Regions from separate parts of the Homo sapiens genome. Here all the other regions are linked to region 1. A link means that fine-mapping ties the variant in region 1 to the plasma level of a protein whose gene starts in the linked region. Region 1 holds a variant in brackets. A gene starts in each other region. All regions are shown on their reverse strands.

What was found. A credible set is the group of variants that fine-mapping cannot tell apart. PIP is the posterior inclusion probability: the model's chance that the variant is causal. The UK Biobank Pharma Proteomics Project read protein levels with antibody pairs (Olink). The fine-mapping took linkage between variants from a reference panel, not from the people measured, so its PIPs are less certain.
Region 2: it holds the start of CRISP2, and the variant in region 1 is the best candidate, but not a certain one, in a credible set for the plasma level of the CRISP2 protein (UK Biobank, PIP 0.87).
Region 3: CCL18 starts here. The variant in region 1 is the best candidate, but not a certain one, in a credible set for the plasma level of the CCL18 protein (UK Biobank, PIP 0.89).

What each region holds. Positions count from the first base shown.
Region 1 is chr19:58,347,502-58,352,910 of GRCh38, reverse strand. It overlaps A1BG (alpha-1-B glycoprotein), which reads left to right. Exons shown (of 8, transcript NM_130786.4): 4 at 356-628; 5 at 1,224-1,520; 6 at 2,260-2,541; 7 at 5,271-5,409. It overlaps A1BG-AS1 (A1BG antisense RNA 1), which reads right to left and starts at 941. Exons shown (of 4, transcript NR_015380.2): 1 at 1-941. RefSeq lists enhancers at 4,820-4,899, 5,116-5,409 and a silencer at 5,090-5,409. The variant T/C (reference allele first, on the strand shown) is at 2,469.
Region 2 is chr6:49,708,745-49,717,936 of GRCh38, reverse strand. CRISP2 (cysteine rich secretory protein 2) reads left to right here and starts at 4,394. Exons shown (of 10, transcript NM_003296.4): 1 at 4,394-4,462; 2 at 5,333-5,436; 3 at 6,616-6,652; 4 at 8,732-8,806. The coding sequence starts at 8,741.
Region 3 is chr17:36,061,226-36,069,225 of GRCh38, reverse strand. CCL18 (C-C motif chemokine ligand 18) reads right to left here and starts at 4,954. Exons shown (of 3, transcript NM_002988.4): 1 at 4,817-4,954. The coding sequence starts at 4,883.

The DNA.
Region 1 (5,409 bases):
TTGGGGGCCAGGAGGCAGTGGGTAGGTTGTTGACTGGGGGGTCTCCCTTCCTCCAAGTCACCCGATGTCTCTGAGCCCCAAGCCCCAATCTTCCCATCTGTCAAATGGGGATGATGTCTGTGTTGTAAGGAATACATGGTTGTGTCCCCAGCAGGCCCGGCATGCCGTACAGCTCCCACACACTCTTTTTCTCTTGCCGTATGCCTTGTTTCCACTGGTGCCTGCCTGCCTTTTCCCAGCAATGCCCTCCATCCCTGTCTCCTTCACAGTCTTATGAGTGTGGGGCCCAGGTTCTGCTGGGCTTCCCACGTCTCCTGTTATGCAGAAGCACTCTTCAACTCCACCCCACCCACAGAGTCCTTGCCTGCTCCCTGGCTCTCGATGGCGCCAGTGTCCTGGATCACCCCCGGCCTGAAAACAACAGCAGTGTGCCGAGGTGTGCTGCGGGGTGTGACTTTTCTGCTGAGGCGGGAGGGCGACCATGAGTTTCTGGAGGTGCCTGAGGCCCAGGAGGATGTGGAGGCCACCTTTCCAGTCCATCAGCCTGGCAACTACAGCTGCAGCTACCGGACCGATGGGGAAGGCGCCCTCTCTGAGCCCAGCGCTACTGTGACCATTGAGGAGCTCGGTGACTGTGGGAACCATCTCTGGGGGCTGCTGGGGGAGGAGGATACAGGGGGCATGACCACATTCATCCTGACCTCCATGCTGAATGTCCTTGCCCAGGACCAGGTCCAGGAAGCTGGCCACACGGTTGCCTGGGTCTGATGGTTGCAAAGGAGTTTGGGCAGAGGATGCCCAAAGAATGGAAGGGTGAGGCCGGGTGCGGTGGCTCACGCCTATAATCCCAGCACTTTGGGAGGCTGAGGCCAGCGGATCATGAGGTCAAGAGATCGAGACCAGTCTACCCAACATGACGAAACCCCGTCTCTACTAAAAATACAAAAATTAGCCAGGTGTGGTGGCAGGTGCCTGTAGTACCAGCTACTCAGGAGGCTGAGGCAGGAGAATCCCTTGAACCTGGGAGGCAGAGCTTGCAGTGAGCTGAGTGGCGCCACTGCACTCCAGCCTGGGCAACAAGAGCGAAACTCCGTTTCAAAAAAAAAAAAAAAAAAGAATGGAAGGGTGTTCCTGGGATTGCCACCCGGAGGGCAGAGGTCTGGGGACTGGGCAGAGGGCAGCTCCAGGGATGGGGCAGCCTAGTAATGCTGCCTGCATTGCAGCTGCACCACCACCGCCTGTGCTGATGCACCATGGAGAGTCCTCCCAGGTCCTGCACCCTGGCAACAAGGTGACCCTCACCTGCGTGGCTCCCCTGAGTGGAGTGGACTTCCAGCTACGGCGCGGGGAGAAAGAGCTGCTGGTACCCAGGAGCAGCACCAGCCCAGATCGCATCTTCTTTCACCTGAACGCGGTGGCCCTGGGGGATGGAGGTCACTACACCTGCCGCTACCGGCTGCATGACAACCAAAACGGCTGGTCCGGGGACAGCGCGCCGGTCGAGCTGATTCTGAGCGATGGTGAGCCGGGGCCAGCAGGGACAGGGACGCGGCTGGGTCCCTGGGGAGCAGGAGCAGTACCAGGTGTAGAGTCTGGGGAAGTGCAGTGCTCTGGGCCAGGGTCCAATACCAACTTTATCCGCCCACCCGCCGATTCAGGGTCCTAAACTGCAAATATGATGATGAGCGTGACAACCTTCAGGCCCCACAGGGAATAACTGGGTGAACAGGTCTGGCCCAGGCCACAGGGGGCACCACCTGGCAGGTCCCATCCCAGCTGCCAGGTCTAGGTGAGCACTGAGGGCCTCTGCTGAGGCAGCTCCTCCGCTCGCTTGCCTTGGACCTGATGGTATTTAGCAAACTCTGAGCACCGGACAGCGAACCCCATGCCCAGCGGACCACAGGGGCCCCTCCGTGGGGCGGGCATTGGGGCGGTGCTCAGAAGACGCTCGTGGAGCAAATCCACTACTGAGCGGCATCGTGCACCAGGCATCAAGCCATGCACAAAACATGTCCCCGTCCCCGCTTCCCGTCTGTGTCTGTAGACAAACAAATTACTAAGAAACAGTGAAAGGGTGCGTGTGAGATATCCAAGGACTGGGATGCAAAGGTGGGGCGGGCCCGGAGGAGGCGAGGGAGGAAGCTGGCCAGGTCATTGCGGGCAGAAGACTCAGCCAAGGCAAAGAGCGCGAGGCCAGACCACGCGTTAGGGCCGAGCCAGCCGCTGGGCGCCCGGGTCAGCCCGTGTGCTGCTCCGCAGAGACGCTGCCCGCGCCGGAGTTCTCCCCGGAGCCGGAGTCCGGCAGGGCCTTGCGGCTGCGGTGCCTGGCGCCCCTGGAGGGCGCGCGCTTCGCCCTGGTGCGCGAGGACAGGGGCGGGCGCCGCGTGCACCGTTTCCAGAGCCCCGCTGGGACCGAGGCGCTCTTCGAGCTGCACAACATTTCCGTGGCTGACTCCGCCAACTACAGC[T/C]GCGTCTACGTGGACCTGAAGCCGCCTTTCGGGGGCTCCGCGCCCAGCGAGCGCTTGGAGCTGCACGTGGACGGTGAGCTGGCGGGGCACCAGCGAGGGCGGGCGCGGGTTCAGTGCCCCTCGGGGCCTCCTGTCTTTCCCCTCTTTCCTTGGGCGTCCGACGGCGGCGCTCTGGGCCTTGGTTCAGCCCCCATCGCCTACCCCGGCGGGGAGCAGGCGATCGGTGGTCGAGGGTCTGGGGACGCCTGGAATTTCGGCTTATTTCCCACGGACGCAAGCCCGTAGGTCACGTGTAGCGTGGTGGTCGGCAGCAGGGAGGCTGGCCCCAGGTTTTCTTGTTCAGATCCCTGCAGCTCTGTGGCTGCCTTGTTTTATTACTGGCCATGTCAGTCGTCATACTGGACCCCCCGCCCCGGCCCCGGTCCCGCAGGCGCACGGCTGATGTGTCCTTCTCCCCATCCCCGCCGTCCCCAGCTCTGTTTGTCCCTCTGATTTCCTCATCGACGTCTCCAGGACTCAGAGCCCAGCAGAGCGTGAGGGCACAGGTCTGACCTCCAGATCTTGAGGTCGTACCCTTTGCTGGGAGCACCGTTTTCTCTTTTCTTTCACTTTCTTTCTTTTCTTTCCTGCCTTCCTTCCTCTTTCTTTCTTTCTCTTTCCTTCTTTCTTTCTTCCTTCCTTCTTTCTCTCTTTTCTTTCTTCTTTTTTCTTCTTTCTCTCTCTCTCATCTCTGCCCCCCAACCCCATCTCTCTCCTTCATTCCTCCCTTTTCTTCTCCTTTTTGTTTTTTTTTTGGATAACTTACTTTTATTCTTGCAGGCCGGAGTGCAGTGGTGCAGTCTCAGCTCACTGCAACTTTCGCCTTCTGGGTTCAGGCAGTTCTCCTGCCTCAGCCTCCTGAGTAGCTGGTATTAGAGGCGCATGCCACCATGCCCACCTAATTTTCGTATTTTTAGTAGAGACCGGGTTTTGCTATGTTGGCTGGGCTGGTCTTGACCTCCTGACCTTGTGATCTGCCCGCCTCTGCCTCCCAAAGTGCTGGGATTACACTTGTGAGTCACCATGCCCAGCCTATTCTTGCAGTGTTATAAGCCACCATCCACAATTGATGAAAAATGTTTAATCTTGGCCAGGCAAGGTGGCTCACGCCTGTAATCACAGCACTTTGGGAGGCCAAGGCGGGTGGATCACAAAATCAGGAGTTCAAGAGCAGCCTGGCCAACATGGAGAAACCCTGTCTCTACTAAAAATACAAAATTAGCCAGCTGTGGTGGCACATGCCTGTAATCCCAGCCACTTGGGAGGCTGAGGCAGGAGAATTGCTTTAACCCGGGAGGTGGAGTTTGCAGTGAGTCCAGGTCATGCCACTGCATTCCAGCCTGGGCAACAAGAGCAAAACTCCATCTCAAAAAAAAAAAAAATGTTTAATCTTTAAATTGTACATCTATATCCTATGACTCCAAATTTTATTTATCACTCTCCTTAAAGTCTGAAGAAAATGATTAATTTACTAAGCTCCAAAGACAACACAGTCCCACTGACATAACATTTAGTATGATGTCCTACTCTCCTGTTAGAATTAAGAACAGCCAGTATCAAACTGGCCTGAAATCTGATTGGGTTCCTGGGCTCAGAATAACTGTAGTAAATTTGTAAATCCACACTAAGACACAAAATTAAACTAGGATGTGTATATCTATCTTACAAGAAAACGTTTCACAGTAAAAATTAACATTATGATTTTACCAAATTTCAACATTATAGTTTGTTAATCCAATCAAGCTTTCAAAATTCCTGATTAGCTTACAATTAATTGCAAATAACTTCATGTAGTTTGGCTAGCATTTCAAAATGGATAGGGAATATAACTTTTAAAATGCGAAAGTATATTATACATATTGCACTTTTCTGCTAGGCTGGGCTAGTATCTTCCATGGCAAGATACTCAAACTATTGAATAAAATACACATTTAAATCAAGCACTTACATGTACTTCATTAATTTCCCTGAAATTATCAACAGCATTACCAAAATCTTCCAGGATTTTGTAACATTTGATTCCTTACAGTTTTGTTTTGTTTGTTTGTTTTTGAGACGGAGTGTCACTCTGTCACCCGGGCTGGAGTGCAGTGGCGCAATCTTGGCTCACTGAAACCTCTGCCTCCCAGGTTCAAGCAATTTTCCTGCCTCCACCTCCCGAGTAGCTGGGATTACAGGCGCACGCTGCCACGCCCGGCTAATTTTTTGTATTTTAGTAGAGACGGGGTTTCACCGTGTTACCCAGGCTGGTCTGGAACTCCTGAGCTCAGGCAATCCGCCTGCCTCGGCCTCTCAAAGTGCTGAGATTACAGGTGTGAGCCACTGCGCCCGGCACCTTAAATACACTTTTAAAGTTAAACTTATGGAGGGAAAACCCTCATCTATTGACATAGATTGTATGTCCTTTTTTGGTCCCTCCATGAAGGAGCACCGTTTTCTCCATCATTTCTTCTTCCCTTCACCCGTCAGAGTGACCGAGGCTGGGGACCCCAGAAGCCCCAGAGCAGGCCCGAATCTGGGACTTCCACGGTCCTGGGGGAGGGGTGCGGGGACACTCACGTGTGGCGCGGATGTCCGGGGTGTGAAGGCAGCGGGCGCAGCTCGGCGGCGCCGGAGGAGCCCTCTGCGCCCAGGAACAAGACAGGGAAGATGAAGCCGGGGCTGAGGCGCAGGCGCGGGCGCGGCCTGGGGTGTGGCCTGGGGTGTGGCCTGGGGCGTGGCCTGGGGCGTGGCCTGGCCCGACCACCCGCCCGCTCCGCCCAGGACCCCCTCCCAGGCCTCAGCTCCGGGCGACGTGGAGTGGGGCGGTCCTGGCGGGCCGAGATGCCGTCCTGCGCTGCGAGGGACCCATCCCCGACGTCACCTTCGAGCTGCTGCGCGAGGGCGAGACGAAGGCCGTGAA
Region 2 (9,192 bases), not on the chromosome of region 1:
AGGACAATTTTGCTTATTCTGCTTTACTGTTTTAAAATATCTTGCTGTTGTGCTCTTTGTGTAGGAATAGAGGATAAACTTACTCAACTTTTTAAAAAAATCTTCCAGATATCACCTTTTCTTGGAACTTAAGAGTTATGAATGGCCTTCATCATACTAATGCATTCTGACTGAACTCCTCTGTACCCTGAACACAAGAGACCCTAATAGTTACACAGAAATATCATTGCCCCATTCAGCCTGAAGAAGTTAAAGAAGATGAATCTTCATCCTTCTGCAACTGTTAGGATTAAGGGTTCTTTTATAAAAGGGAGAGGAGAAATGTCAGAGGAATGTGAACCGGAGCAACTCCATCTTAAATAGGGGCTGGGTAAAATGAGGCTGAGACCTACTGGGCTGCATTCCCAGACAGTTAAGGCATTCTAAGTAAAAGGATAAGATAGGAGTTTGGCACAAAATACAGGTCATAAAGACCTTTCTTGTAAAACAGTTTGCAGTAAACAAGTCAGCTAAAACCTACCAAAACCAAGATGGCAACAAGAGTGACTGCTGGTCGTCCTCACTGCTACACTTCCACAAGGGTTGTGACAGTTTACAAATGCCATGGCAATGTCACGAAGTTACCCTATATGGTCTACAAAGGGGAGACATGAAAAATCCACCCTTTGTTTCGTATATAATCAGAATAACCATAAAAATTGGCAACCAGCAGCCCTTGGGGCTGCTCTGCCTATGGAGTAGCCATTCTTTCCTCTAACAATTTGACCTTTTGACTTGGGGTTTTATATGTTGGCATACTTCCAGGGTCTTGCATTACTCTTCCCTTGGATTAGGCCATCTGCATGTGCAGTAGCCTGCTAGCACTTGGGAGCAGCCTCATGCACAGTGTGTTTAATGGAGTTGTACACATGCTCACTTGAGAAATTTTTTCTGTACCAATACAGTGTTTCTAGAAGAAGTGTTTCCCCTTGATTTAGTTCTAGAAAGTCCTTTCGTTCTCTGCCTCTAGGCCCTATTCTCCTGCCTCAATTTCCCCCTGAAAGATGTGATCTCCATAAGTCTTTATGGGAGGTGGAACAACCGATGGTCTTTCTTCTGTAAATGCTTTATGACTGGTGTGGGGATCACAGACCTCTTGCCTTGCTCTCTCTAGTGAAGGAAGGGTAGCTCCTTGATGGCCAGGGGAGGCATCTTCACCTGGAACTGGCTGGAACCCTTGTCACATGATCATCTAAAGCTTAATCGTCTCTAGGCGAGAGGAAATGAATTGGGTTAAAGATTTAATGGGAATTTTAGGGGGTGGATACCTATTCTTTCAGCAATGTTTGTTATGGAAATTTGCAGGAGAAAAACAAAACCTGGTCTTTTCTAGGATCTATGTGTTTCCTTAATGTCTTAGCACAAGCGACTCTGTTTTGGTTTGGTTTGGTTTGGTCTTTTGGGGCCTAGTGCATGAACTCAGTCCAAAACAATTGCCTCCTATGCTTTTGCTTAAAAAGAAAATTCCCCCCTTTTTGATAAGGTTCTCACTTAGGTGAGAGTGTGACCAAAACTTAGGGCCTTAGCACCACTCTCAGTTACCATTATTTCGGGTTTCTGGTCTCACCACATCATTCATAGGTTATGGTGTCCTCATGGTCACACATTTCTTTCAGCTCTTGTCATTCTAATTGAAGAGAGACCATTTGACATTCTAGCAATGGCTGCGTGGAAGCACTTAAAACCTTTGAGAGAATACAGTGTACCAGGGAAACTATTATTATGACTATCGGGAGGATAATACCAAGAGTTTGGAGTATGCTCTTTACCCAGGTTACCCATAAACCAAACCACCTAAAATTAAATAGATCAAAAAATGAGCTAAAGAGTCTACTTACTTAACTAAGCAATCTCTTCATTTATCCTCTACAGCTAAATCTCTATAGTCTTCATCTGATGTATTTCTCCATAGGCCACAAGTGCCAGCAGCTGCACAGATACTTCTCTATTCAGCCAATTCTATCATAATTTTCACAAGAGAATTTAAAGTCTGGTATTTAACTATATCCTATACAGTAGAATCTGCTATAGAGCCTACTATGAGGAATGCATTTCTAATCATTGCTTCTTTTACTCCAAACCATAGAAAAAGGAACTAACAAATGATGCCCTTCTAGAAAAGCAAAGGACTCCTGGCAATGTTCTTAGAAGTACCTGTACTATTCCTCTCAGTAATGGAGATCTACTTTCCATGTGCTCTCCAACACATTCAGGCACCAAACTTACAAGTCTTCTATTCTGGATTTGCCCTTCATACAAAATCTATCAACACTTTTTAAAAATCTCTTCATATTCCACCCTTTTGTCCTATTTCTACTACTACAAAATTAATCTGGGGAATTGTTACCACACTTATTTTTGCTGCCATCAATTTCTCAGCTCTGTAAATCACCCCATGCAGTGAGATCAGGTGGCTTTTATGAAACATTCTTTTGATCAAAGAATTTCCCAACCCTCCAAAATGTCAATGAAATTACTTTCCCATGTTATACAGAGAAGCAAATCTCCTTAGACTTCTATACAAAGTTTCCCCAACCTTTTCAACAGTCTTTCTGTCTTGAATATGCCTTGTGATATAATGATTTATCTGCTTTTGTTCTTCAACTCTTTCTCCCTTCAAATCAAGCCATACGCATTATTCAATAACAGTTCAAATGTCAAAACTTTCCTAGGTTTTACCCAGATCATATCAACTCACAGAACTCTCAATTACTGTATATATTTTTGGTCGCCCTACTTAGCATTAAACTACACTACCTAATAGTATTCTTTACTTATTCATATACATACTCCTTTCTCTCATAGTACTATGAGTCTTAGAAGAAAGAGATTTTATGTCCTTTTTTCTGTATTTTCTAAGAATCTATGTCGGGTCAATATTTACTCACTTAACAAATATTTACAAACTACCACCTATATTTGGTATTGTGTTAGTTTTGGAGATACAGCAATAATCAAGACAGACATAGCCAATTTCTGAAATTCAGGTTCACCAACAATATCTGGCACCACAGCGCTCAAGTTGCTCTCATTCTGATATCATCAATGTGAATATGGGAACAAGTAATAATTACAGGAATGACTCTTCTCCAAAAATGAAAAATAAGATATTCACAGTAAATGATAGACTATTATAGTGCTGAGAATGAATTGTTCGGCACTAGAAAGAAAGAACAAATAGGTAGGCAGAGATTTTGTGCATATAGGTATTTGAAATGTCCAATTAATAACTTAAGCAAGATATGGTGAAAACATGAATATAGAAGTGAGGGACAGATTGAGGACTAGATTTCATAAATATTTAGAAAGGCAAACTGTCAGTAATGAATTTTGATATTGGATGTAGATATAAGCGTTAAGCAGTCTAAATTCCAAAATTTTTAGTCAGTGCTGCATGAACTGAAATAAGCAGCAAAAGAAAACTAAAACAATGTCTGTGTGCTGATCCCTTGAAATTACCTTGTAACACTGCCAAAGGAAAATGGCACTGAGCACCAAGTTTGTTATAGTTTCAGTTGTGCCCAAGTGAGTCTCCAGAGTTGGTGAAATCTCAAGCCTCTTATTGCATGGCTTACAGAGAACCAAGGTATGACGGATATTAATCCTTGGCTTGACATCTTTTGACCCATCTCTCTTCCTCTAGGTCATAAGCGAATTCACTCCTTTTCGCTTTGAAAACAACTGTGAATAGAAGAAAATGCACCTATTACTCATCCGCCTTCTGAGAGAGAAAACATGTCTTTAACCCATGCTTGATACGTATGCTAAACTTGCAGCCAGTAGCCTTGGGTCAGGAGTTCTGCGTATTTTCATAAGAGTTGTTCCTGTTACTCTTCGTGAATTTTCTCACCATAAAACTGTTGCCAACGGGGAAGAGGGACAAGAACATGAAGTGTTTATGAGGGAGCCTGAAACTGACAACCTGTGTAACTGGAGTGCGTCGTTGGCATGACACTGGCAGCGCACTGCAAACTTAAGCACCTGTGGACTCCTAATTAGCTCTTTAAATTGAACTACATTAATTCAGGCATTCTTGTTTGAATGCGAACGCCTCCTTTTTCAAGCCACCCCCTGGGCAACCCGAATCCTTATATGACCTCCCTCCTCCTCCTAGTACGGCGCAGGTATGCGAACAGACATTTTCTTTCCTCATCAACTGGTGGTAATGAGAAAAAGAGAACTCTGCTTTTCACAAGGGAAAACGTGCAAGATTTTCTCCGTAGTAGGGGAGGCGGGGGCGATGGGAGGAGAGCAGCTCACGTAGGCAGATAGCGGCGATGAAAGCATAAAGCCCAGTGACGTCGCCCACACGTGGCGCCTGGCAAGTGAACAATCGCGGTGAGAGGGGCGCGCCGCAGCTCCTCAACGCCGCAACGCGCCGGCCCAACTGCAGGAAGGTCTGTGCTCTGGAGCCAGGGTAAATGTAAGACCCGGATTGGAGACTAGAAATGGCTAGGGACGGGGAGGTGGGGTGAAGCACAGGGGAGAGAACCATCGTTGAGGTGAGGGGGTTTCTGATCCTCCTTCGCTCCTCTTCCGGCATCTGGAGGGCACATAGCTAATGCCGGGCAGACTGAGAGTTCAATTTTGTTGCTTAGCGCCGACCTACCATAACTTTCAACATGCTTCTCTATGTTTAGTCTATTGAAACTCTTTACCTACCTTAAAAGAGAAATCATTCTAAGTACATAAGACCCATTGAATCATAGTAGAAGCCTGAAGTCATTTCTCAATCTGCTTTTTACGAAGTCAAATTAAGACTCTTAGTTTCTAATTGATGTTTTGAATGTACAGTTATTAGAAACTGTAATAACAATTAGAGTTGGGGTCATTGACTCTGCTGGACTTTATATCATCTATTGGCTTCCAGAATTTAAAAAAAAAATGAAGAGACAAAGCTGTTACCCCCAAATCCACGTAGTTAATACTTACCATGTGGGACACTGCTTATGGAAATGATCTTTTAAAGAATGGGTTGAAGTCCTAGATAAGGGGTTGGGAGTCTTGAAAAAAGGTTGCAATTTTCCAAGCAAGTTAGCCAACTAGTAGTTACTGAACTTCAAGAAGTCCACTTTTTTGTTAGTGTTTGAAGGAAATATCAGGGCGTTGAAATACAATCTGACCTCAGAAGGACAATATGGTCTTAACGCTGAAATCAAATAAATACAGTAAATTATTAGAAACAATACTAAACAATTGAGTCAAAATTTAAGTTTGTGACAAAGATTATAGATACCATCTATAAGGGTATTCTTCACATCTTTATTTTAAATATTTTGTTTCCTTGTTCTAGGGTTATAAAATTATACACCATGGCCCTCCTAAAGACACTCTAGGAAAACCATGTCATCCTGATCTTAAAACACCTGCAAGAAAGAGCACAGTACTTCACCATTAGTAAGTAGCAAAGAAAAAAAATGGTAGCCAACTTTTCAACTATATATCAATATGGGTTTAAAGGAATAAAATGTAATTATATGGAATAGAAAAAAATATTTTTCCTTGAATATACTCTCACCAACAGTGACATTGCTTTCATTGACTCAATGAAGATGAGTATAGGTTAGATGGTTGAGGTTATGAGAGAGAAGAGCAGCAAAGAGGAGAGTATGGCATCATGGCCTATTATAGAATTCTGGCTCATCAGATGCATACACTGGGTGATTGAGCTATACAAAACTCTTCAGGCTCCTGTGTATGGCTTTCAATGAGCTGATGAGGATACAACAGCCCAGATGTTAGAGCATTTTCCTAAAGTCAGCCAGAAGGTGTCTAATAGAACCAGGCCTTGAACATGTGAATCTCGAATTAGATTATACTGATTGTATTTTCCTATAACACCTGGAAGGAAACACATGTCTCTTAAACACTTAGTAATTAGCAATTCAATCAAACAGCATATGTTTATAGAAAGCTCTTATGAGCTCAACAAACTAGCAGACATTGCAAAAGATAATAAAAACATGAATAATTTCCGTTTATTTGTATTATGTGCATAATGTGTTTATTGTATTAGAGGTGTTACATACATTGTCCCTTCCAGTCTTCAAAGCAAAAACCTGTGATATAAAAATCTACATTTTACATAAGAAAAACACTGAAGCTTGGCATAGATTTCCCAGACCTGATGGTTTCCAAAGAATGCACCCGTAACCAATAAGCTACAGGTAGTTGATAATTAGAAAGTAAAAATCATAGACAGCTGAACTATGAGAGTTCAGCTATAAGGCAGAATCCTGGTAACCTTCACAGTAGTTAACCTGTCTTGGGTTGTCAATATAGAAATACTAGTCCAAAAAGGCCACATGCAGATTATCGTGTGCCTAAGGAGAAGGGAGAACTGATTAGAAAGGGAGGGCATGATTTACTTACTCATGTTAAAAACTATGTGGGAAGCAAATAATGTCAAAAGCATTATCAGACAACTGACAATGAAGTTTAAGGTTACTGGTATGAAAAATACTACTTCAGAACTTTGTTGACTTAGATTTATTTAACAAAACCAGAGTTTGACAAAACAGGAATATGTGTAATATATATGCTGCTCTAAACCTTCCACCTTCTTTCTTTCTAAAGATAAAGTAGATATTTCATCCTGCTCAGAAAACCAACAGTAAGTGTTAAATCATTGATTTTAATGTGAATATTTTATCATGCCAATCATTTTTATGTTGTCAAGGGTAAAATGATTAATGAGTTTGCCCATGATTTTATTTTTTTGTTTTTTGTTTGTCTGTTTGTTTGTTTGTTTTAGAGACAGGGTCTCTTTCTGTCACCCAGGCTGGAATGCAGTGCTGTGATCATAGTTCACTGCTGCCTCAAACTCCTAGGCTCAAATGATCATCCCACCTCAGCCTCCTGAGTAGCTGGGACTACAGGCACTTGCCACCATGCCCAGCTAATTATGTTTTGTTTTTGTTTGTTTGTTTTTAGTAGAGATGAGGTCTCACTGTGCTTTCCAGGCTGATCTTGAACTCCTGGGCTCAAGTTATGTGCTCTCACCTCAGTCTCCCAAAATGTTAGGATTATAGGAATGAGCCACTGTGCCTGGCCTATCCATGATTTTCAAAACTTTAATAAATTTGTATTGAGAATGACCTCAAGTTAATTTTATTCTTTTACAGTTAAGAAGGTAAATTACAGCAATATTACGCACACACACAAAAAAATTTGATATGTAAAAATTTTTTACATTTTATTCTAAAAATAAGTAATGGAATTAATTCTCATGTTTGTGACTTGAGACAATTATACTAGAACTACCTTTAATAGGAAAATGGAAAAGTATGGCTGTTTAAGTATATTGTATAAGCTGGCATATTAATGATTTTACTATTAACATATACAGTTATGTATTAATAAGGGAATTATTAAAGTAAAAATAAAGGGTCTCCATTGTGCTGCAACAATGTCTGCCTTTTCCCAATTAAAACTGTGTCTCTTTCAATGAGTCAATGTCTCTTTCAAAGTCATTGACTTCGAAGTCATAATTGGATGAAGACTAATTTCTGACATTACCTAAGAACGTAGCATTGGCATAGGTTAATTAACTGTCTTAAGCCTCAATTACATCATCCATACAATATAAATAGTAATACCCAGTAAGGTATGGGAGTGAAATTGTATATCATTTTCCATGAACCGTCAATAATTGTTCATCCCTCATCCCTTTTTTGCACATAATTGAGCATAAAGGCAATGGATGGAACAAGTATCAATGATACACTATTTACAGTAAGTGAAGCCTGAGAAGCATCACAGATAAATTGTTCGGAATTTTCTTTCTTTCCAAGAATTTGGGAGTGACAGTCTCACACACAAGAAACAAATCTAGGCAGCATAACTTTAATTTACAAATTAAACAATTTATATGACTAATGACAGAAAGGTGAGTGTTTCCAAAACTAAGTGGTCTTGTTGTTTCATCTGAAGGACGTGAGACTTTTTGACATATTGAGAAAGGACAACATGGGTAACAAAATGCTGAGTGTCTTTTTAGGAGATAATGAAAATACGAAACAATCTTCTTACCAAATAATGGATTGAGTAAACTTGAATAAGCTATATCTTCAATGCATTAATTGTATTTTTTGTATACAGAGAAATTTGAAAATATTCACAAGTATAAGGAAGAAAATAAACATAACTTCTAGTTACTCCATTAGGGAAATAACAGCTAATAAAGTATTTGCACAACCATATCTGTGTAATCACAACCTTGTCATCTTAATTAGAGTCTGGTATAAATAAAAGGACAAACCGTTTTACTTTTCGTATAGAATAGCCAATTGAGAGATGGTACATATTGAAAATAAACTTTCCTCCAAAAATTGAGATGAAGAATGAATGTCAGTACTATAATTAACTATTAAGGAATCTATTTTCTTTTTGATGGCGTAAGGGTAGCAGAAGTAGGCAGAAAGAAGGGAGTAGGTCTCTCTCTTTTATAGATGTACCTCAAGGGCATCAGTAGAGTTCTTCAGCTTTTTCTTTATTGTCACTATCAAAGACAAGGTTGGCCTCATTATGATTCTACTAGTACCATAGGGCAATTCTTCTTTTGTTCCATTGTTAATGAATCTGGGAATCACAGTTCCTTTGAGATAATCGAGATCATTATATTGGTATTCCCCCTCTTAGAAGTTTTTTAAACTACATATTTCAATGCAGACCTTTGTTTTTCTTGACTTAGTTTCCAGCAATGGCTTTACTACCGGTGTTGTTTCTGGTTACTGTGCTGCTTCCATCTTTACCTGCAGAAGGAAAGGTAAGGTTAAAATGGAAAATCTTTTCAGAGCTATCCAGCAACTTTGTGGTATGGCAGGCTATTCTGAAAGTAAAGGGGGGTAAGAGAGTTTGGTATGTCAGAGTTTCCACTGGTTCAGAGTTCTCAGAGCACTTAACACAATTATTGAGATGAAAGGCCAAGGTTATGCTGTATGTGTTCTGCATGTGTATGCTAGCCACCGGTCACATGTGACTACTGAACACTTGAAATGAGGTTTGAACAGGCAAAATGTACTCTGATGGTAAGAAACTCACTAGATTTCAAACATTTAGAACAAAGAAAGAAGGAAATATCTCATTTTTTTAATATTGCATCCATGATGAAATGATAATATTTTGGATATTCCATTAAATAATATATTAGGT
Region 3 (8,000 bases), not on the chromosome of region 1:
CTCCCATTGAGCAGAACCTTCTGATAGCCTCCCCAGCTGTTCCAACAGCATAGATGTACCATGGACATCAGAGCCAGGCATGGTGGCTCATGCCTGTAATCCCAGCATTTGGAGAGGCCAAGGTGGGAGGATTGCTTGAAGCCAAGAGTGTGAGACCAACCTGAGCAACATAGTGAGACCCTGTCTCTATAAATTTTTTTTTTTTTAAAGTAGCTGGGCATGCCTGTAGTTTCAGCTTCTTTGGACGCTGAGGCAGGAGGATTGCTTCAGCCCGGAAAGTCAAGCCTACAGTGAGCTCTGATCATGCCACTGCACTCCAGCCTGGGCAACAGAGTAAGACTTTGTCTCAAATAAATAATTAGGTAAATAAATAAATTTAAACAGGTGGTCCTCCCTGAGTTTGTTTAACAGCTCAGTTGTGTCATCAAGAACTCAGGCTTCTTAAAACATCTCCCCTTCCCCCACCATTTTGTTGGCTTTTCTTATTTGAGCTTGTCACCTCGTGGTCCCAAAATGGCCGCTGCTTTCTCAGTCATCACATCCTCATAATGTCTCATCCACAAGCATACGAGGGAGTCTCATAGGAGTACAGGAAGAGCAATGTTACTAGTGTTTTTAGTTCAAATAGCTTTTTATATGATTTGTTATGTGAACTATAGATTACACCAAAAAGCAGTAAAGCTAATTTTGAAAACACATAAAATACAGAAAAGAATAAAAACTCATTTAGAATCTCAAAGCTGGGTAGGCAGCAGGCAAACGGAGGCAGGAATGTGAGAGTTTTTTTCTACATTCCCTATTGTGGCATATGTGCATTCTGATGCAAAACCTGAAAAAAAAATTTCATTGAAGGTAGGAAAAATTCTAGTACCCAAACCTAGCCACTTTTTTTTTTTAAAAAACAGTTTGGTATATTTCTTTCCAGTGCAGTTTTTTTCTAGGCTTATGATAGTACTGTTTGCTCATTTGCTTTTTTCCTTCTTCTTACTGTGTCTGGTGGGGGAAGACATTACTGTTGTCATGATACAGGTTTTAATTTTGTATTTTTTTATTTATACAGCCATGCATCACTTAATGACAAAAATACATCTGAGGAACTTGTCATTAGTCTGTTTTGTTATTGTGGGAATATCATAGACTTACACAAACCTAGATGGTGTAGTCTACCGTACACCTTCACTGTATGGTACAGCCTGTAGCTCCTAGGCTACAAAGTTGTACAGCATGCCACTGTACTGAATACTGTAGGCAACTGCAATGCAATGTTAAGTATTTGCATATCTAAACATATCTAAACATAGAAAAGGTATAGTACAAATACAGAATTATAATCTTATGGGACCACCACTGTATAATATATGCAGTTTGTCATTGACCAAAGCATTGTTATGCAGCATATGACTGTGCTTAATATTAAAAGACTTTTCCAAATCATTCCAGTATTTTTAAGAACTGCCTAATTTACTTAAGCCTAGTGCATTAATATTGTCATGCACTACTGTAACATATGTGGGTTGGTTTCAATTTTTCCTTTTTTTTTAGATGGAGTCTCACTCTGTTGCCCAGGATGGAGTACAGTGGTGTGATCCCAGGTCAATGCAACCCCCACTTCCCAGGTTCAAGCGATTCTCCTACCTCAGCCTCCTGAGTAGCTGGAACTACAGGCGTGCACCACTATGCCCAGCTAATTTTTGTATTTTTAGTGAAGATGAGGTTTCACCATGTTGGCCAGGCTGGTCTCGAACTCCTGACCTCAGGTGATCTGCTTGCCTCGGCCTCCCAAAGTGCTAGGATTACAGGTGTAAGCCACTGCACCTGGCCAATTTTTCATTGTTATAAGTTGTGCCAAACATCTGTATGCAAAAAACTTTCTCCATAAGTGAGGTTATTTCTGTAGGATATTTTCCTAGCTGTGGGCTTCCTGGGTGAAAAAATAAGGGCATCTAAGGCTCCTGATCTATATAGACACCCCATATGTCATGCATATTCATGTCTATTACCCAGAGTCAAACCCAATGATGGCATATTGTAGGGAGCTATGAATGTTCAATGAATCAAACAGCAGTTAAAAGCCTGGCCCCATCATTCTTGTCATTCCCATAGTCCAGACTTTCCCTATTCCATTCTGTCCATTTGGGTCTGGATCAAACACAACTCGAACTACTTAAGATTCTGGGGTATCATCTTACATGTCACTTCTGTGCAATGGAAACACAACACTAGAAATATCTGTTCCATAGGAGGAAATGACCATGGTGCCATTCACAAATAGATCTGTTCTTGATAGAAGGTACCAGCTAAGCTTGGCTTCTTGGTAACACCAATTCTTGACGTCCTCCTCATGAGTTAAGCATTTCTTAGAAGCACTCCGATTAACACGATGTAATGGTCCTTTTCACCCAGGGTGTGGTTTAAATGTGACTTGTGCTGCCCAGAACGCTGTGGCATGACCATTTACATCACACCATGTGGTCAGAGGAGCTGCAGCACAGCATTAGAGAGCTGCTCTGTGGTGGAAGTGTTAATCTGAAGATCTCTCCTTGTACGTATGACTTCAACACTAACATCTCACCCTCTCTCACTGTCAAAAACATTTCTGCACATTCAGCCCCAACAAGTGAGCAGTTGAGTTGCTCTTGTACATCCTGAACCCCTGGGGGACCCAAGGTACCCCAACATGTACAACTCAGAGCAAGACACCATGCACTTAACATCTTCCCCTCTGGTCATCCCCAGTCTCCAGCTCCTCATGGTTTAGAGTTGCCTGTAAAGGGTTGAGGACATGGCTTGGACCCCAGAACGATGTAGGTGGCAGTGAGTGCCCAGTCCTGTTTTGGCATTGCCTACACTCCTCTGCCTGCCCAACACTGAACAGGTCTTCTTTGGTGCCCTCCATCTCCTCTCCATGGCCCTCAGCTCACAAGTCTCATCTGTCCCGTGAGACTCTCTTGACCCTTGTCCTTTCTTCATTTTAGAGTTGTTTCCCTATGCTCTGGACAGACATTTAAGCCATATCACTTAATTCTTGTGGATTAAGATTCTCTAAGTAAAATCAAAGAACTTCACAAAAGGTTTCAAAATGTTCTGGGCTATTTTCTGAGGACTTAGATATCTAACCTAGATCTGAAAGGCAGGAGAGGGCTAGGACCCATTGTTAGTTGGGAAAACTGGGGCCTAACTCAGTCATTCACAAGATGCAAACTCTGGGTCTAGTTGGTTCCTAGGGTGAGGAAGTGGCAGAGTTCCTTCAGTTCTCCTGAGAAGCTCTACTCCTACAGCGATTTAGAGACGATGGTCTCTTGCTGGGAAAAGTCTCTGTAGACTGAATGAAGTTCCTACCCAAAAGAGATGGAACAAAGGCCAGCCATTCCAAGAGCTATACTCCCTGAAGAGGGAGCAAGGGAGTGAGAGTAAGACAGAGGCAGAGATTTAAAAGAAACACTCAAAGTCAAGGATGAATGCCTGACTTCCTTAGTTCCTTTTGTGCCCTACTTCACAGTCCTGAGCAGTGAGGTCTTCATCAACTTCTTGCTGGTCCCTTTTCAAGAGTGGAAGAAATTTACTTGGTTTTTCTCAGGTTCTGGATGCTGGTTCCCTCACGGTTAAGGCACCCCATTGTCTCCTGCCTCTCTTATGTTTCTCCATATCCACTGCAAATTTGCTGACTCCAGCAGCTGGTGCTCTTACCCTGGCGTAATGTCAGCATCAGTCCTTCTGTCTGCAAATAGGGCATATGGAGGAGACAACCCATGGGACAAGGGACAAGGAGCACGTAAGCACAAGTAGGAGGTGGGAGCTACTATGGACTTTCATATCCAGTGTGAAGGTAAAATGAAGGTAAAATGAAGACATTTCCAAGCAAGCAAAAAATGGAGACTTCACTATCAGAAGACCCACAGTAATGAAAATACTAAGAGGATTCCTTTAGGCAGAAGAAAAGTGATTGCAGATGGAGCTCAGAGATGCAGAAGAATTTAAGAGGACAGGAAGAGCAAATATGTGATGAAAACTAAATGAATATTGACTGTATAAAGTAATTAAAATATATCATAGGATTTTAATTTTAAGACCGCTCACCACTGGTTTTATAATAGGCAACCGAAAATTTGCAGTGCATCTACTGGGAGGTGTAGGAGAAGCAGCAGATGCATGGGGTGTGAATCTTATCTGAGGGAACAAAGACAACAGGAGTTGCTCAGGAGAAGAAGCCCAGGCGGGTCACAAAGGAGCAAAGGGAGACAGCATAGCTCAGAGTTGAGGCCTGCAGGAAAAGAAAGCTGGAAATAATCTGGCTTTTTGTTTGTTTCTCCTTAATTTCCCTAGTCTTGTCTCTCCATTTTAGTCTTTATTTTACGCTACAGGGAATCAAGCTCCCTGAATAGTCTATGCCCTTCTCCTAACTCTCCTTGGGGAATTTTTTTTCTAATAGATTAAATCACAAGATAGCTGAGAAAAGTATAGACATCTTTTATGTTACCCAAGGGGTTGAACTCTAGGAGACTGCTGAGGTCATTGTAAAACTTACCAGCACCAGTGAGAACTAAATAGACCTAGATTCTACCTCACGCTAATAACCCAATGAATTAGACTTCAACCATCTCATTTATCTCAGTAGGATAAAACTTCTCTGACTCCCATCCTGCTGCCCAGATCAATAGACTGCTTTTCAACCTTCTTGAAGAAAACAATGATGTCACTTTGAAACCCCATTTGAGGATCCCTAATTTCACACGAGGGTTTTCAGGCCACAGCACTTGGAAGATGTCGCCTGACTTCTGCCCAGGGAGCCATCAAAGCACATGGATGACAGACTCACCTTGTGCACAGGAGCAGAGGGCCATGGTGCAGACGAGGACAAGGAGGGCAGCTGCAAGGCCCTTCATGATGCTGGGCAGGCAGAGAAGTGGTCAGAGTGAGCTGGGGCTTGGAAACTCACAACTCCTGGCCTCCTTCTGGGGTATGAGCTGTTGTCTCTCCTTTTTATAGGCAGACTGGACCATGGGAACATTGGAGGTGCTGATGCAAGACATTTTAACTATGGTGGTGTCATGTGAGTTCTCAGCCCAGGGTTGCCTATGGTTACTTGAAAGGTTTAGGGTACACAAACGAGTGGTTCACTTGTTGATTGAGGGGCTTATGGAGAAGTTGTATCTCCAGATGGGTGACCAGGAGTTGGAAGCACCCAGGGATTATGCTTAGGATTATGCATAATCATGTGATTATGTTTTCACATGACAGATATTTCTCAGAAATGAGTGGTCACAGCCTCCTTTGATAGAGCAGAATGCTTTAATGGATTTTCACAATTGTTTTTCCTTTTAAGAGAGTCACATGCTTCAATCTTTTATATACAGTTAGGCCTTTCGTGATCTAATGAGAAATCTTCCCCTATCCTAAGGCAATAAAGATATCCTCCTATGTTAACTTGTAGAAGCTTTATTGTTTTAGCATTAATATTTAAATTACAATCCATCTGGAGTTGATTTTTATGTTTGGTGTGAAGAAGGATTCAAGATTTATTTTTTGCCACATGAATACCCAATGGACCTTGGCAACTCATTGGTAAGACCATTGTATAAGTCAGGATTCCCCAGAGACACAGAACCAATGGTGTGTGTATAAAAAATAAGAAATTAGAGAATTGGCTCATTTAATTATGAAGGCTGACAAGTTCCAAGATCTGCAGGGTGAGCTGGCAAGCTGGAGACCCAGGAGAGCTGCTAGTGTAGTCCCAGTTTGAGTTCAAAGACCTGAGAATGGGCAGGCTTAAGGCCCAGGAAGAGATGATGTTTCAGTTTAAGTTCAAAGGCAGGAGAAAAACCTATGTCCCAGTGTGAAGGCAATCAGGCAAGAGGAATTCCCTCTTACAGGCAGGAGGGTCAGGCTTTTTGTTGTATTCAGAACTTCAACTAATTGAATGAAGCCCACCACATTAGAGAGGGCAATCTGCTTTACTCGGTTTATTGATTTCAATGATTTTGTGGTCTGCTTTTGGAATTTCTGTTCTGTTCCAATGGTTTATTTTCCTATCCTTGTGCTAATACATTATGTTAATTTGTTTTTCACTTTGAAGGAGATATCCCTGTATGCCCCTGACAACTGGACTCATAAAACCTTTCCTGAAATGACAAGTCCATAAATAGTTAAAAGATTTATCTCCCACCTCATGGAATACATACGTTTTTTTCTTTGTATTTTTCTTTCTTTCTTTCTTTTTGTTTTTGAGATGGAGTTTCGCTCTTGTCATCTAGGTTGGAGTGCAATGGCGCAATCTCGGCTCACCGCAACCTCCACCTCCTGGGTTTAAGCGATTCTCCTGCCTCAGCCTCCTGTGTAGCTGGGATTACAGGCATGTGCCACCATGCCTGGCTAATTTTGTATTTTTAGTAGAGATGGGGTTTCTCCATGTTGGTCAGGCTGGTCTTGAACTCCCGACCTCAGGTGATCCACCCGCCTCAGCCTCCCAAAGTGCTGGAATTACAGGCATGAGCCACCGCACCCAGCTGGAATACATATGTCTTACAGAGTGTCCAACATATGGCCACTTCTTGTCTATCATGCCCTATCAACATGATGTCACCAATGTAATGGATCAATGTGTTGTTTTGAGAGATACATGAAAATTCAGATCTCTTCAGACTACAGTATGCAGAAGATGAGAGTTAATAGTCTACAGGAAAACTGTAAGTGAATATTTTCCATTCTTATGAATGGGAACTTTTTCTTATCCTCTTTCCTACTTGTTATGGGACAGAATGCATTTGCCAAATCAATAGGTACATAACATGTACTTAATACCTGGCATGTGTCAGTACCTGGTTATAGAAGCTGCAATCAGGTTACTACCTGGTTGAGCTCACAGTGTTCTACAGTCATTCTCTAGGATCCATCCAGTTTCTGCAGAAGCCAGACTTGCAAATTAAATAGATATGATAATAACCATTTTCCTTGCATTTTTTGTATCCTTAAGGGTGGCATTAGTCTCCACCATCCCCTCCACTAGATTGCAATATTGTTTCTAATCTACTCTTTTTTCCTGGGAGAAGGGGGCAGTTTCAGAGATTTCCACTTCACCTTCCCTCTAGAGATGCTTGTTCTATTAACCATTGCCACAACTCTCCATGGGTCAAGACCCCTTGATTGTCACTCCAACCTTGCTGGCTATAACGATATTTAGAACCCCTTGGCTTCTGTTTGTTAAATGCTGCTACCTAGCCTCCACTGTTTCAAGGCAAGAAAGCTCCACTGCTTCAAGGAGAGAGGGCCCCACTGCTTCAAGGAGGAAGAGCTATCAATGGGCCAAGTTTTGTGACAGCCACTCTTACCATCAGCCCTAGCCTATAAAGAAGGCGGGACCACTAACTTCTTAGAAATGCTGGTGCTCCTCTCACCAGGGAGTCCTGGTGGCTTTGGTGAATAGTGCATTCCCATGGAACATAATCTGGTGAGTCTTCTGGCCTCATGTAATGTATCCACTCCAGCATGACCACTTCCATGACTCTTTTAATCCCTTCCTTCTCCATCTGTCATGGCAATTCGGGTATTTTAACTTCACTCGGCATGAGCCATTGCTTTCTCAGGCTTCTGGAGCCTTTCTGACAACAAATCTGTACCAACCCCTGGGGTCCTTCTCAAGAGGTTACAGCCTATATCCGGAAAGAATACTCCCAAGTCAGTAAGTTGTCTCTTATCGAGGCTTATATTCCAACTCCTTTTATCAAGCACCTCAAAATCCAAACCCAAGTCTACTTCCCCTGCTCAGGCTGACACATGCTTGCTAAATTCTGCTAGTGCTTTAGAGTATAGTCCCTTTTCTCCCTTATTAGGAATATAATTTATTGACACAAGAATGTGTTACCAGAAGATATGGAAAATATGAATGGTTTCATTTCCACTAAGGAATTAAATCAATAATTAAAAACCATGGTTAGAAAACATCTTCATACCTAGCTGGTTTCATAAGCAAGTTCTACCAAACATTTATGGAAAAAATAATGGAA